Homo sapiens: one gene and its partners. The protein of the gene in region 2 purifies or fractionates together with the protein of the main gene of each other region. This does not show direct contact. Each region holds a gene or a part of one and is shown on either strand. Other genes may lie near its edges. The genes, in order: BRD1, MIS18BP1, ING5 and KAT7.

Region 1 (3,589 bases), on a different chromosome or scaffold from region 2:
CTCCGCGACAATGCAGCTGGGATGGTCAGAGACAGACCCAAGGCCCAGGCCAGATGCCTGCACAAGACTTGCTCTGTGACAATGCCGCTGGGGACAGTCAGAGACAGACCCAAAGCCCATCTTGCTGGGACCTGCTCCATGACAATGCAGCTGGGACGGTCAGAGACAGACCCAAGGCCCATCGTGCTGGGACTCGCTCCGTGACAATGCAGCTGGGATGGTCAGAGACAGAACCAAGGCCCAGGCCAGACGCCTGCACGAGACCTGCTCTTGCTGGGACCCAGCTCCATGACAATGCAGCTGGGATGGTCAGAGACAGACCCAAGGCCCAGGACAGACGCCTGCACAAGATCCCACGCACAGATGCCCCACCCCACGAGCAGGACTTCTCAGTTGGCCGCAGGGGCACTCAGCGTGGTGACCAGCAAGAGACAAACAGCAGCACTGCTCAAGAATCCACTGGGCATTGTGGGGAAAAAACAGAGGAAGGGGAAGTAAGGGGAGAAGGAAATCAGGTAGAAAACCCAGAAATACAGAAGATGCTAGCGAGTGAGTGAGCACGCACTGTCCATGCCACATCCTCAGACAGTGCCGAGCCAAGTTCCTCCATACCCCATGGCACAGACACAGCACAACGCGCCTGGGCATGGCCGTCACACCCAAACCACCAGTCACTATGGGACGGCTCCGCACATGCTCAGGACAGCCTCAGAATGCTGTCCACTGTGTCGTCAGCTGCAGCAGGCTCCCAGTCGGTGCCGGGCTCTCCTCTGCGTCCTTCGTGACTGTCCAGAGGGAAGGCTGAGGTGCCACGACATCCCGCCAGCTCCAGGCGTGCACCGGGCGCCAGCACCATTCCCACTGCCGGGCTCTGACTTACAGAGGGGGTGGGCTGGGGTGGGGGAGAGCTCCTCCAGGGCTGCTGTTTGTGATTTTGTCTAGAGGATGTTTGAGCTGATGATTCCAATGTGATCCGCAAGAATTAAGTGAAAGGCAAGATGCAGTGATCTTTGTGCATTCCAAAACGGCCGCTTAGCAGAACTCCAGTCCAAGTTGAGGTAAGAGAAAATGATTAGGGTCCAAAGAGTGAACTACCCAGCACATTAGTGGTTAAAGTGAGAACCTGGAAAACAGTGAAAAAGCCATTTAGTCTGAATGAAAGGGCAGGACAGCTCAGCCTCCTCCCTGAACAGCCGAAGGACACTGAAGACACCCCCGCGCTCTCACGCCCCAGCACGTGCACATGGAGACTCGCAACAGGGGTCTCCGCAACGGCAGCGAGTGGACAAAGACATCCCCACACTCTCAAGCCCCAGCACATGCACACAGAGACTCGCAGCAGGGGTCTCCGCAACGGCGGTGAGTGGACAAAGACACCCCCGCGCTCTCACGCCCCAGCACGTGCACAGGGAGACTCGCGGCAGGGGTCTCCGCAACGGCGGCGAGTAGACAAAGACACCCCCACGCTCTCACACGCCCCAGCACGTGCACACAGAGACTCGCAGCAGGGGTCTCCGCAACGGCGGCGAGTGGAAGGCCGCTTCAGGTGACGGTTCACTGCTGGTGAGCGTGCAGTCACGGAGGAAGGAAGCCACGAGTCAGGGCCAGACTCTGGGGCTGGGCCATCGCAGGAACAGAAGCCTGGCGCACAGCACAGCCGGCCCGCGGGCGACACGGGCAGGAGGCCCACAGTGAGTGCGTCGCCTCAGGACCAGCGACCCTGTTCAGCCTAACTCAGAATTGTGCGTGTGCTGGAAAATGCCAGATAACTCCCTAAAGTTCAGAGCACACAGATGCATGTATGGAAAACATCAGAAGGTTCCGGATAATTCCTGTCCTAAGACTGCGAAGAACTGCAGCTCTGGGCAAGAAATCCCCCATGTGCAGAGCACCAGAAGGTTCCGGTGAAACCAAAGCGAGGGCGGATGGCGGGACTGGCACCATTCAGAGCACGCCCAGCCCTTCCCCGGGCGCCTCGGCCACAGCAGTGGAATGCCTCCCACTCCCGAGGGCCTGGTCTTAATGCTGCTGAGGCTCCCGGCTGCTCAGGAGAGAGCTCAGGAACTCACCGCACCTCCACGGAAATCCACTGTCACTCGGAAATGAGAGAGCAGAAATCTCCACTTCAGTCAGGATCAGAGGGCACCATGATTCTCAAAAGCCACCATGGGCCACGCTCACTGAAGGTCTGCAGTAAGACTGCTCTACACCACCGTCACCACGGGAAGCCCGCAAAACACTCCACTCCAATGTAAGACAGTGGCCCGGAGGGGACACGTGCTCTTCTACAAGGGACATCTGATGAACGAGCCTGAGAGGTTGCTGAGGACGTGGCCGCCAGCCGGCAAAACTGTCCACAGTGGGAGCCCACAGCTGGGGCAGGGCCCGGTCAGGTGGGGCCACCTGGTGGAAACCACCACGTGAGCATCCTGCTGAGTGTCGACGGGAGGCCGCCTCAAACCCCAGCCCCACGGCCGGCAGGGCCTCCACGCACGCAGCCCCATACCTCTGCCGCCGACAGACGTGAAACCCCGAGGAAGTGGAGCGTCAGCCGAACTCCAAGTTCTGCATGCAGAGGGGACGCCCACAATTACACTGACCCAACCTCTAGTACCCAGTGCACAGCACCCTGACCCGATTCATCACAGAATTTCCGGGGTGCTTGGAAAACCAGGTCAGAGTCTTTCACCAAAGGTGGCTAAGAAAGACCAACGTGGTTAAGACACATCCCCCAGTCCTGAGTCAAGGACATCTATTCTTATTGGTATCTTGTGAAACATTTCAATAGCTTCCTATTACTTAGAAAGCAAAAAAGCTTTTTCAAATTATTTTAAAATGCCAATTTAACATCAATCCATCAAAGTAAAAGGACATGGGTAGAAAATTTCTACACATTCAGTTACGTGCAAAATTTTCATACAAATCAAAATGAAATTTACCAGAAATTACTTTGGCAACAAGACGCATGACCTGCTTGCTGGCAAGGGTAGGAAGTGAGCCTCCTTCTGCACAAAGACCTTTGACAGTGCCTGGTCTCACTCCCCTCCCCGGACGCTTCAGGCCAGAGACCAGCAGAAGGAACAGGGACAAGATGTGAGGGAGTGGCCTGGGCAGGTCTTGCCCACCACAGCCTTCCATCTGCACCCGGCCTGGTGAGGCTCCATGACACAGGACTCACTTGCTGCCACTCTGGGAAATAAGCAACACCCACCCAGCCCCACCCTCTCTCACTGCTCAAGTGCACGAGGCACCACGGCACACCAGCACAGCCAGGAGAAAATGCGCATCTCCTTATCTAGGTATAACAGGCAGACAGGACAGACGGGAACCAAGCCTTGACTCGGGACAAAAACCAAAATGACAAACATGCTCCAGACACGCTTCCAGAAAAGAGTCGCTGGCAACCTGAGCCGGCACCTCCAGAAGCGCAGCCAGTACCGAAGAAGCAAACCGATGACAGCTGCTCCTCTTTAAAGGACAAACTCCTCAGCTTCCTCTGAGGGGCGGGGAGCAGAGGCTGCAGGAACACAGCGGCCTCCTCAAAGTGCTCCCAGCACAGCACACACACGGCAACACCCTCACCGAGGAA
Region 2 (3,589 bases):
AGCAAAAGAGAACAACCTGAGAATCTTATATCTTGTCACTAAAGAAAGCAAATTAAAATGAGAACAATTCACCAATTCAAAACCTAAGTAATGAGAAGTCAAACTAACTGAAACTATCCAACTGTAATTAGAAATACATATAAACTGCAAATCATCCCACTGTCATAGAAACATATTACAACCACCTCCACATATTATGTGCCATTGTTTACAAGATGACTGACAGAATGAGACTGATAGATAATATTGAATGCTGGGGAGAAAAGAAGCCTCTAAATTACAATCCGTGGAAAAAGGTAATAATCAAAATAATTTAGAAAGTGTCTACAAGATTTTCCACTGGCATCATATATCTTCAAATTATGAGAAAAGTATTTTCTTCTAACTCCTCATATAAATCCAATTCAAATGTTTACCTGGGAATTTGAAAATTTTCAACATTATAATTTTGAACAATATTTCCATTCAGAGTATTTGTTAATTTTAATAAATTATTTAATAAAGATCCAGCTATCTTGGATACTTAAACCGAATATGAACTCGGAAGTATAAGTAGCACTGCTTTCCTATCTTCTTCAAACAAATAAATGTTCTTCACTTTCACTTCTTTTCACTTATAAGAGGAAATAAAACACAAAAAAATGCTATAAAGCTAATGGATTTAGCTCAACATGAAATTGTAAACTTGCTAACATTTAGACGAAAGCCTCTAAATTATGGCATGCAGGATTCCAATTAAATCACTCTGAAAATCCACACTTAAAACTAAATTATTGTACTAAATTCATAAAAGGATTCACTCTTTACACATTCCTGTAAGCATATGTTAAATGATATATAGTTTTGTGATCTAAACAAATATTTTAGTACCCAGATTAAAGAAGGCAAACCTGTAAGTATAGGTGGTTTTTAAAAGGGCTATTTTATTATGAAAATCATCTTATGTAAAAATAACAAAACCAAACATTTAAAAACATTAAATAATTTGCCATTTTACATGAGGAAATTTACAAGATCACTTTTATCATATTAAAAACATTTCACATAGTAGCTTTCTGCTTATGATTAAAAAACCATTAAAGATATATTACCTTGCTTCTGACTTTTTATTATCCTTTCATTTGTTCTTTCACCAATTTTTAGTTTCTTTGAAGACATTTTATATTCTTTTTTTCCAATTAATTCCTTCAAAACAAAAAGATACCTAGGTTTTATTTTAAAACTACTACCAAAACATGATCTGAAGCATTTTCATAGTATGCATCAAGCATACAAATTTCTAGGTACTTACAGTTCCGCAAATTTCATTAGTGGACACATTCCGAAACTTACTTGCCAGACCTTGAGCACTACGAGCAACATCTGGGAATCCATTATCCTACATATTTTCTACATTAATTTAATACTTTGTGGTTTTTCAAGTGCTTTTAAAAATATGCTTTATTTAAGCTTTACTCTAAAAGCTAAAACTTTTATTGTTGCCTGCATTTTTTCATTGAGAGACAGGGAAAATAAATATCAAGACATTCAGTCCCCAAGTAAATGAAAAGCTGATACTTGAAAAACAGAACTCTTGGCTGGGCGCAGTGGCTCACGACTGTAATCCCAGCACTTTGGGAGGCAGAGGTGGGTGAATCACAAGGTCAGGAGTTCGAGACCAGCCTGGCCAATATGGTGAAACCCCGTTACTACTAAAAATACAAAAATTAGCCAGGCGTGGTGGTGCATGCCTGTAGTCCCAGCTACTCGGGAAGCTGAGGCAGGAGAATCACTCGAACCCAGGAGGTGGAGGTTGAGGCAGGAGAATCACTTGAACCCAGGAGGCAGAGGGTGCAATAAGCCGAGATCACGCCACTGCACTCCAGCCTGGGCAATAGAGGGAGACTCCATCTCAAAAGAAAAAAAAAAAAAAAACAGAACTCACGTCCCTGATATGGTCCCAAACCTTTTCAGTAGTAAATCACCCTTCTAAATATCAACTTGAACTATACAGTGTACAATAAAGCCTTACCTGATTAGATAAGTCATCTCCTCCTCCATTTTGAATAGTATTATTTACTTGGTCATCTGGGAACCTTAATGTTGGTTTATTTTGGCAATTACTGTGGCACATGTTTAATTCTGTAGCTCCTGGTGACTCACTGTGCTTATTACTCTTCAGTTCTATGAATACAAAGATGGAGATTTCAATAAATGGTTATATAAAAGAGAAGCTGCTTTTCTACATGAAGAATTAACTTTGACGCTAGGTGTGGTGGCTCACGCCTGTAATCCCAGCACTCTGGGAGGCCGAGGGAGGAGGATTGCTTGAGCCCAGGAGTTCAAGACTAGCCTAGGCAAAATAGTGATACACTGATTCTACAAAGAATAAAAGGTTGGTGCAAGCCTATGGTCCCAGATACTTGGGAGCCTGAGGTGGGAGGATCACTTGAGCCAGGGAGGTCGAGGCTGCAGTGAGCCGTGATTGTGCCACTGTACTCCAGCCTGGGTGACAGAGCAACACCCTGTCTCAGAAATAATAATGATAATCTGTCTAATCCCTCTGTCATAAATATTTGTTATAATTTGACTAGGATATAAAGCAATTTTATTTGGAAAGAATCACTCTGTATAGCGCTACGCTACATTTTGTTTGAATCACTTTTTTTCCTTCAAAAAAAATTTAAAAAGCCTAGACAGCCATATTATTCACGACCATCTGTTTTGGATCTCCTTTGTCACATCTAAAGACAGAATAGTAAGGTTAATCCATTTTGTAAATAAAAATTCCTGTTCATCCTAACTGCACATCAACTAAATAGAAAGCTAATAACTGTTCTTCTTCTATTTCTTCATGTATGTAGAATTATGTTTCAACTAGTTTATGTACTCCAATGTATAACTAAATTTCTGTAATTAAAATTTTGAGCAAAACTAAATTATACAGTATATAATATATGCTCAACAAACAGTTACTAAGCTGGAATTCTAGGTAAGTTAAAACAGATTCATAAAAAGTATAAAAACATTTTGTTATTTTTCTAGAAGCTATTCTTTAAAGATGTACTGACTAGTCCTTGCTCTTGAAAATATTACCATATAATGAAGGAAGCTTCTATTATGATAGGTCATTTATCATATACTCTGGTAAGTGTAATAACAGAGATAAAGTGCTTTAAGAGCAATACTATGATACACAAGTACTTTTTAGGCAAATCATTAAAACACATACATAAAATTACATTATCTTAAATTAACATGGGTTGGTACCTTTACATAACCTTAGCTATATAATGTTAGATGTGGTTTTGTTTTTTTCATGCAAAGTGCAATGATAATAATAAAATTAATAACAGCCCCAACCACCACTCAAAATAACTTACGTGATATGAAGATAGTGTCTAACAGTTTCATTAAGAAAAGATCTAATGAATTACACTAGAAAAATGATGCAATCATAACAGAATATATTAATATTTGCCCCTAAACCAAGATCCCTGGGGGTGGGGGTGGGGGGAATCATGCCTTATTCATCTCTAAGTTCCTAAAACTTAATAGACCAGGGTTCATGGAAAGCACTTTAAAAATGTTGACACCAGGTGCCATGTTT
Region 3 (3,589 bases), on a different chromosome or scaffold from region 2:
CAGATTGTCAGCTGATGCTAGAAAGAACAGTTACCCACAAAAATCCAGGAACAGCAGCAGCTGGCAGCAGAGGGGTGGAGACCTCGCGCCCACCTTCGGGCCCAGGCAGGGGCATGGGGGCACAGAGGGCCCCCAGGAGGCCGTGAAGCGCAGCACTCACCCACAGCACCGGGGTTCTGGTCCCACTCTGGGGACGAGTCCACTCTCATCTCGGTCCCTCCTCCCAGACAGGACTCCCCCGGGGACCTCTGGACTCAACCCACTTCTGGGCCATCCCTCCAAAGACCCCGGCCCCTTTGGAAACAAGCACACGTCACCTCTGCCAGCAGACGGCTGACACCTGAGAGAAGCCTGCCAGCCTCCCACTCCAGACTGACAGGTGTCAGAGCAGCCCGCACAGTCAACAGCTCTCCCGTAACTGTGACCTCCTCCCAAGAGAACAGCCATGCGTCCTGCGCCCGGGCCCTCCACGCACCTACTCAGGCACCTCTGCCCCAATACTGACTCAACCAGCAGCTCCCCACACACTCCCTGGACCGCCCACCACCCACCCAGCTGTCCACCTGGCACAGGGCCCCTTCCGACCACACACCATCCTTGTCACTCCTTCATCCCCATCAGCTCCCACGTGGGTTTCTACACAGCAGCCTGGCAGGTGTTCCACCCCGTCTATGCCTCCCTCCAAGCCTGCCACCTGTAGCACCATGGCCGTCCCACCAGGACCACAGACCTCAGGTGGAGACTTTCCTGTTTGAAAGGGATGCACTTAGGGGGAAATTTACGCTTTTATATTTCAGTATTTTTCAAATAAACTTACAAGCTGCAGGTACTATAGACAGTGTATTCCCATTAGTACAGAAAGAAAAAGTATCTTCCCTATCCCACCCTCCAACCCACGAATATCTAGTTGGTATGTAAACACAGCAGGTTAGCAGGAGGAACGTGGCCGTGAGAAAAACAGTCACGATCAGGGAAAGCCAAGGAGCAGAAGTCTGGGTCCCAGAGGGAATCAACACTCAGCTTTTCCTTGGATACCTGTCTAAAGCTTTTCTACGCCTTTGCAATTGCCTGTACACATACACACACACTCGGGCTCAGCATGCACCCGGCCTCCCCGCTGCCCTCTGGCACAGGGGCGCCCACCTAAGTCTGTCCTTTGCAGGTAATCTGCTCTTCTGCTCTTTCTCTCTGTCTGGGAATAGACAGGGGTTTCTCTTTAGAGCTGAAATCCATCAGCGTCACAAGTCCAGGTCCAGGTGCTGCCGACACTGCTTTCAAGCAACAGTCTCAAGTAGTCTTCGGGTCTCTCCTCTGACAGCAGCACGCAAGGGTCTACGTCTCAGCCTCCTGCCGATTCCGGGATGCCACCTGTGGCTTCACCTCCAAGGGGCTCCTGCGGTCTCCTCGAGTCACCTCTCACCCGCGGAGAGCAGGGCAGCACCCTCTGCTGCCAACCGTCCCCGAAACGCTGACGCCCTCCTCTTCTGCGCCGAGTCCAATTCTGTCCACAAAGCCCGACCTGACATCTTGAGCTGCCACTTGACCTGTGTCTCAGCATCACCAGGTTCGAGGGCGCTGGCCAGATTTGATGGCTGTGGGAGAGGGCCGGGGGCCTGAGGGGACCGCCCAGCAAGGGCACCCCAGAAGCTGAGGCCACCGTGCAGGCCTCACTGGCCTCTCAGTCTCGCCTGAGGGAGCGCCATGGCGTGTGGCCAGGGAGTGCTGCTATCAGCCCTGAGGGAGGCAACCAGGAGGCCATGGGGAGCCCTGTCCCTTGCACAGGCCAGGGTGACCCCAACTGTCAGCGGCTGCTGACTCCCTTCAGCACCACTGCCACAAGAGGCACCCTCTGTGCTAACTCCCCAGGGTGTGGCAGGCACCCCTCGCCAGACGGTGCCAGCGAGCCCTTCCGCGCCCGGCCCCGATGGCTTCCCAGCACTCCACGTGGCTCCTAGCAGGGGGCTGGCTGCCTGTCCAAGCCCCGGGATTCCAGGTGCTACAGGTGACACTGCCCTTCATCCACACACACAGGTTCTGCCTCGCCAGAGCAAGGCCACAGGGCAGCAACAGTGCAGGGGGCAGCCTCAGGTCACGGGATCTCAGACGAGACACGGAGCATCTGTGCAGTCTAGGAACACTGCATTCCAGGAAGAGCCCCGGGCACGTGGGGAACAGGCCTGAAGAGGGCAGTCCACAGGGACAGGATGGTGCGTGCGCCTGGGTCCCCAGCAGGGAACAGGACCTGCCTTGAGGCAGAGCGGCCTGGCACCACAGCGTGACCACGAGGGGCGTGAATACCCACTGTGCTGATGGGTCAGGGACGCGCACCACAGAACTCCAGAGCCCAGGGGCAGGCGGGCTCCTGCACACACCCAGGATGATGCCCTTGGAGGCACCCGAGTGCACACTCCCGCCCCGGCAGGCCAGGCTTTGGGTCCAACCGACTGGTCCTCAGGATGACCCGTCTGCCCACCTGCACCATCCTCCTGTCCCTCTGGAAGGGGCCTCCTTGGCGCCTTGGACGTCAGAGCCCAGCTTCAGAGCTGGCCTTACCAGCCTGTCTCGACGTCTTGCAATGGGACAGGAGCAGCACTGCCACTTGGGGGCACAGAGAAGAAAGAGATTCACACACAAGCTAGATCCAGAGCCGCAGGGCCCCGCAACTGTCGCCATCGGTGATCACCCTTCTCATCTGTCACTACTGGGACCTGCACGGCAGGCAGCGCTGAGCTCCCAGGCTCCGCATTGCTACTAAACAGTGCTGGTCAGCGCACTGTCAGGACAGGAAAAGCCATGAGGCCACAGTGGATCTTCCTGTGTTTGCAGAGGTGCTGGCTGTTCCTGAGGTCTCTGAAGCTGGGCAGAGCCCTCAGGGAGGAAGCCCCGACCCCAACAGGGAGCTGGAGTCTCCTTCACCCCCACGAGGACCCCCAGTGCCTGCATTCCTTATGCCTAGCATACCCTTGAGAAACAGCACTGGGTGAGGAAGAGACCAGGAGGAGTCCCACTTTCACGCAGAAAAGGCACGGTCGGGACAGGGCCTTCAGGTTCCGAGCAGGAAGGAGCAGGAAGACTCAGAACGCTGTTGCCACTGAGTTAGAAAACACAAAACCCAGCAAGTCACAAAAACCACATTCTCAAAGATGTCGGGGAGCTGTGGAGCAACAAGAGCTAGATGACCTGCAGCCAGAGTGGGGGGTGTTGGGGGGTTGGGGGCGGCGTCCGCCTGCCTCATGCACTGAGTGAGGGCTGGGCTGGCCACTGGGCCACGCTGAGCCCACACAGCCACACATGGCGGCCGCGTCCCCACCGACATTTATAGTCCAGAGGCTGCACAGAGCAACTAAAAGCAGAGGGAAAATCCCTGCAACCTCGGAGTTCTCGAGCAAGGGGTCTGCTCGGGCACCGCTGGTCTCCTCCCCCGCACTTCTACCAACTGTGGAAGCCGCTGGGGCAGGAGGCGAGAGAGGAAACCTCAAGGTCCTCAAGGGGCCTCGGTGGAGCTGAAGCTGAGACCCTGCCCCGCCCCAGGCCCCCAGCCCTATTGGCCTGGACTAAAACAGAACGAACACCTCCTGGGGAGAACAGA
Region 4 (3,500 bases), on a different chromosome or scaffold from region 2:
CAAACACTTGTCATTTCTTTGTGGTGAGAACAGTCAAAATCCTCTCTAAAGTATATTTTATTTTAATTAATTAATTTTTTTTTCAGAGGGCGGGATGCACAGGCCAGGGCGCGGTGTCAGCCTCACTCTCTCACGGCTGCACCCCCCAACGTATATTTAAAAAAAAAAAAAATCTGAAGAAATCTTATAGATTCTCTAAAGAAGAAAACTGAAAATTTCCAAACTTTCGGGTGAGAAAAGTTAGCACAGAGCAAGGTTATCCATTTGTACATCTCCAAGGGGCCTCCTTTCACAATATGATCTACCTTGTGCTCTAGGGAGGACCACCTTACATTGCTGACATTGTAAATGGTACCCCTGGAGTTGTGCAACTCTGTGGTCATGAGGTATGATAACCAGAAAGAGACTCAGTGCTTACGCATTTCCTAGCTGTTTTGAATATTTAGTTTTCAGGTGTCTAGGGCATGGTCAATTATACTTCCTACAAACATTATGTCTTTTCCTTAGCATATGCTGTTCCATCTGCCGAGAATAACATATTCCCATCTTTCAACTTGTAAATTCCTATCAGAGCCTTTAAGACATCTCAGTGTGCAGCTGGGCACGGCGGCTCACGCCTGTAATCCCAGCACTTTGGGAGGCCGAGGCGGGCAGATCACTTGAGATCAGGAGTTTAAGACAAGCCTGGACAACACGGTGAAACCCTGTCTCTACTAAAAATACAAAAAATAGCCAGGTATGGTGGTGCTCGCCTGTAATCCCAGCTACTTGGGAGGCTGGGGCAGGAGAATTCCTTGAACCCAGGAGGCGGAAGCTGCAGTGAACCAAGATCATGCCACTGCACTCCAGCCTGGGCGACAGAGCGAGATTCTGTCTCAACAACAACAAAAAAGACTTCATCATTGTGGGAGTGCTGCCCTAAGTTGGCTGTCCCACCTCTGGGCTTATGTAGTACTCTATGCAAACCCCTCTCACAGCCCTTGCCATAATGTATTCCCATGATCAATTTTCATATCTGTATCTTGCACTGAACTGTAAGATCTTTGAGGACAGGAACTATGATTTTTCTATCATGGTTCCTAGTACATAACATACTGCTTGAGTTATAGTAGCTATTTATCCATAGTCTCATTGTGGTAAAAATTTAAAGCTTAAGAAATCAAGAGACAATAGCAATACTTTAGCTGAAATCCTAAATTCAAAAATAAAGTTAGGAACAGTTGTTAAAGAGGATATTCCCACTTTCTTGCTTGAAAAACTGATGGTTTTTCTCTCATTGTGCAACATACTCATATAAAAGTGACCAAAGCAGCAGGGCGCGGTGGCTCATGCCTATAATCCAAGCACTTTGGGAGGCCAAGGCAGGCAGACCATGAGGTCAAGAGATTGAGACTATCCTGGCCAACATGGTGAAACCCCATCTCTACTAAAAATACAAAAATTAGCTGGGCACGGTGGCGTGCACCTGTAGTCCCAGCTACTTGCAGGCTGAGGCAGGAGAATTGCTTGAACCCAGGAGGCGGAAGTTGCAGTGAACCAAGATCATGCCACTGCACTCCGCCTGGCAACAGAGCTAGACTCCATCTCAAAAAAAAAAAAAAAAAAAATTAACCAAAGCAACACTGTTGAAGTGCTCAAAACATGTTAAAGTTTTTTTCCCTTCATCTATTATCACCTGTTGATCATCGGCTTTCTGTATTAGCTGCAACCTTCTTTCCTCCTCAGGGAATACCAGAGCAGAGCCAGGAGGGTCAAGGGTACCCTCCAAATCTAACCCCAGATGCCTAAATGCACTAGAGATAGTTCAAACTACCTTCCAACCCCAAGATTCTCAATTCCTTATTACCAAAGCAAAATTCCATTATTTCCACACTGATATTTTGGTACAACTATTAATATCTATCAAGTGTTTATTGGATTACATTCCAGAGTTAAACATGGTTTTAGAAGTGGGCCTCTGCCAAGAGTAAGTCCAAGAGACTACAGATGCTCCTTGACTTGTAATGGGGTTAAGTCTCAATAAAACTATCATAAGTTGAAAGTATTATAAGTTAAAAATGCATTTACAGGCTGAACATGGTGGCTCACATCTATAACCCCAGTACTTTGGGAGGCCAAGGTGGAAGGACTGCTTGAGTCCAGGAGTTTGAGACCAGCCTAGACAACATAATAAGACCTCATCTCTACAAAAAACAAAGAAAACTAGCTAGGCATGGTGGCGTGCACCTGTAGTCCCAGCTACTCAGGAGGCTGAGGTGGGAGGATCACTTGAGCCAAGGAGGTCAAGGCTGCAGTGAGCCAAGATCACACCACTGCACTCCAACCTGTGCAACAGAGCACAAGACCCTGTCTCCAGAAAATAAAAAAAACCGCTATACACCTAACCTACCGAGCATCATAGCTTAGCCTAGCCTACTTTAAATAGGCTCAAACCACTTACATTAGCCTACAATTGTGCACAATCATCTAACACAAAGCCTATTTTTAATAAAGTGTTGAATATTGCATATAATTTATTAAAGACAGTACACTGAAGAGTACTGGTTTACCCTCATGATCAAATGGCTGACTGGGAGTTACGGCTCACTGACTGGAGTTATTATGGCTCATTGCCACCACTCAGCAACATGAGAAAATATTTGGCCCACATATCACTGGCCCAGGAAAAGACCGAAATTCAAAATTCTAAAAGTTTCCACTGAATGCATATTGTTTTAGCACCACTGTAAAGTTAAAAAAAAAAATTAAATCAAGCCACCATAAATCAGATACCATCTGGACTTCAAGTCCCTAAGCCTCAAACATTCAAACAGAAAGTGAAGGGATAACATTCCAATTTTACTGATGGAGACACTGCGATCTAAAAAAACAAACAAACAAACAAACAAATGACTCAAGACATACGTGTGTCTCTATCCATTATACCATCCGCAGTTCCTTTGGGTCTACAGATTGGATAGTAGCCCCCCACAGAGGCATTGTTAAAGACCTGACAACTCTGCATTCACTCTACATTTTACCAATCATCTGGTGCACTGTCATCTACACCAAGCCAAGGGGCCAGTTTCCACATTAACTAGGAAAATAATGTGATGGGCCAGTCAGCCAGATGTGAGGAGTGGTAAGGAAAAATGAAGGTTTTTTTACCTTGAGAACTCTGGCTTAGCCTGGCTGAGGAGCGGGTGACTCGAGCAGATCGTCGGGATGTGCCATCACTTTCTGAACTGTCTGTGTGCTCGAGATCTGTAGAAAAATCGGAATCTTCGGTTCCATCTGAACTACTGCCTGCATTCCTCTGTAATACCATAGATCCAGATATTAGCACAGAAGCATTTGGTCTGAGAGTTTGCATTAACATTGAAAATAAAACAAGCTGTGACACTGAAAACCCCAAGTTCAAACCTAAATAAGGATTCCACAAGCATTTCTCATCCTCCCACCCCCTCAGGCAACTTCACTTTATTTAGAACACTTAAATGGAACAACCTACAAATAGGGAA

The links.
Region 1: the proteins of MIS18BP1 (region 2) and BRD1 purify together in Homo sapiens (affinity purification with western blotting, with the first as the bait; one study listed by BioGRID). This does not show direct contact.
Region 3: the proteins of MIS18BP1 (region 2) and ING5 purify together in Homo sapiens (affinity purification with western blotting, with the first as the bait; one study listed by BioGRID). This does not show direct contact.
Region 4: the proteins of MIS18BP1 (region 2) and KAT7 purify together in Homo sapiens (affinity purification with western blotting; one study listed by BioGRID). This does not show direct contact.

What each region holds. Positions count from the first base shown.
Region 1 is NC_000022.11:49,782,857-49,786,445, forward strand, and holds part of BRD1 (bromodomain-containing protein 1), read right to left. Parts: intron 1,124-3,589; coding exon of another isoform or gene 1,073-1,123; exon of another isoform or gene 1-1,072. UniProt on the Homo sapiens protein: Scaffold subunit of various histone acetyltransferase (HAT) complexes, such as the MOZ/MORF and HBO1 complexes, that acts as a regulator of hematopoiesis.
Region 2 is NC_000014.9:45,225,652-45,229,240, forward strand, and holds part of MIS18BP1 (mis18-binding protein 1), read right to left. Parts: intron 2,164-3,589; coding exon 2,012-2,163; intron 1,186-2,011; coding exon 1,092-1,185; intron 1-1,091. UniProt on the Homo sapiens protein: Required for recruitment of CENPA to centromeres and normal chromosome segregation during mitosis.
Region 3 is NC_000002.12:241,718,985-241,722,573, reverse strand, and holds part of ING5 (inhibitor of growth protein 5), read right to left. Parts: intron 3,092-3,589; coding exon of another isoform or gene 2,953-3,091; exon of another isoform or gene 2,599-2,952; coding exon of another isoform or gene 2,452-2,598; exon of another isoform or gene 767-2,451; intron 1-766. UniProt on the Homo sapiens protein: Component of the HBO1 complex, which specifically mediates acetylation of histone H3 at 'Lys-14' (H3K14ac) and, to a lower extent, acetylation of histone H4. Component of the MOZ/MORF complex which has a histone H3 acetyltransferase activity.
Region 4 is NC_000017.11:49,791,681-49,795,180, reverse strand, and holds part of KAT7 (histone acetyltransferase KAT7), read right to left. Parts: intron 3,296-3,500; coding exon 3,148-3,295; intron 1-3,147. UniProt on the Homo sapiens protein: Catalytic subunit of histone acetyltransferase HBO1 complexes, which specifically mediate acetylation of histone H3 at 'Lys-14' (H3K14ac), thereby regulating various processes, such as gene transcription, protein ubiquitination, immune regulation, stem cell pluripotent and self-renewal maintenance and embryonic development.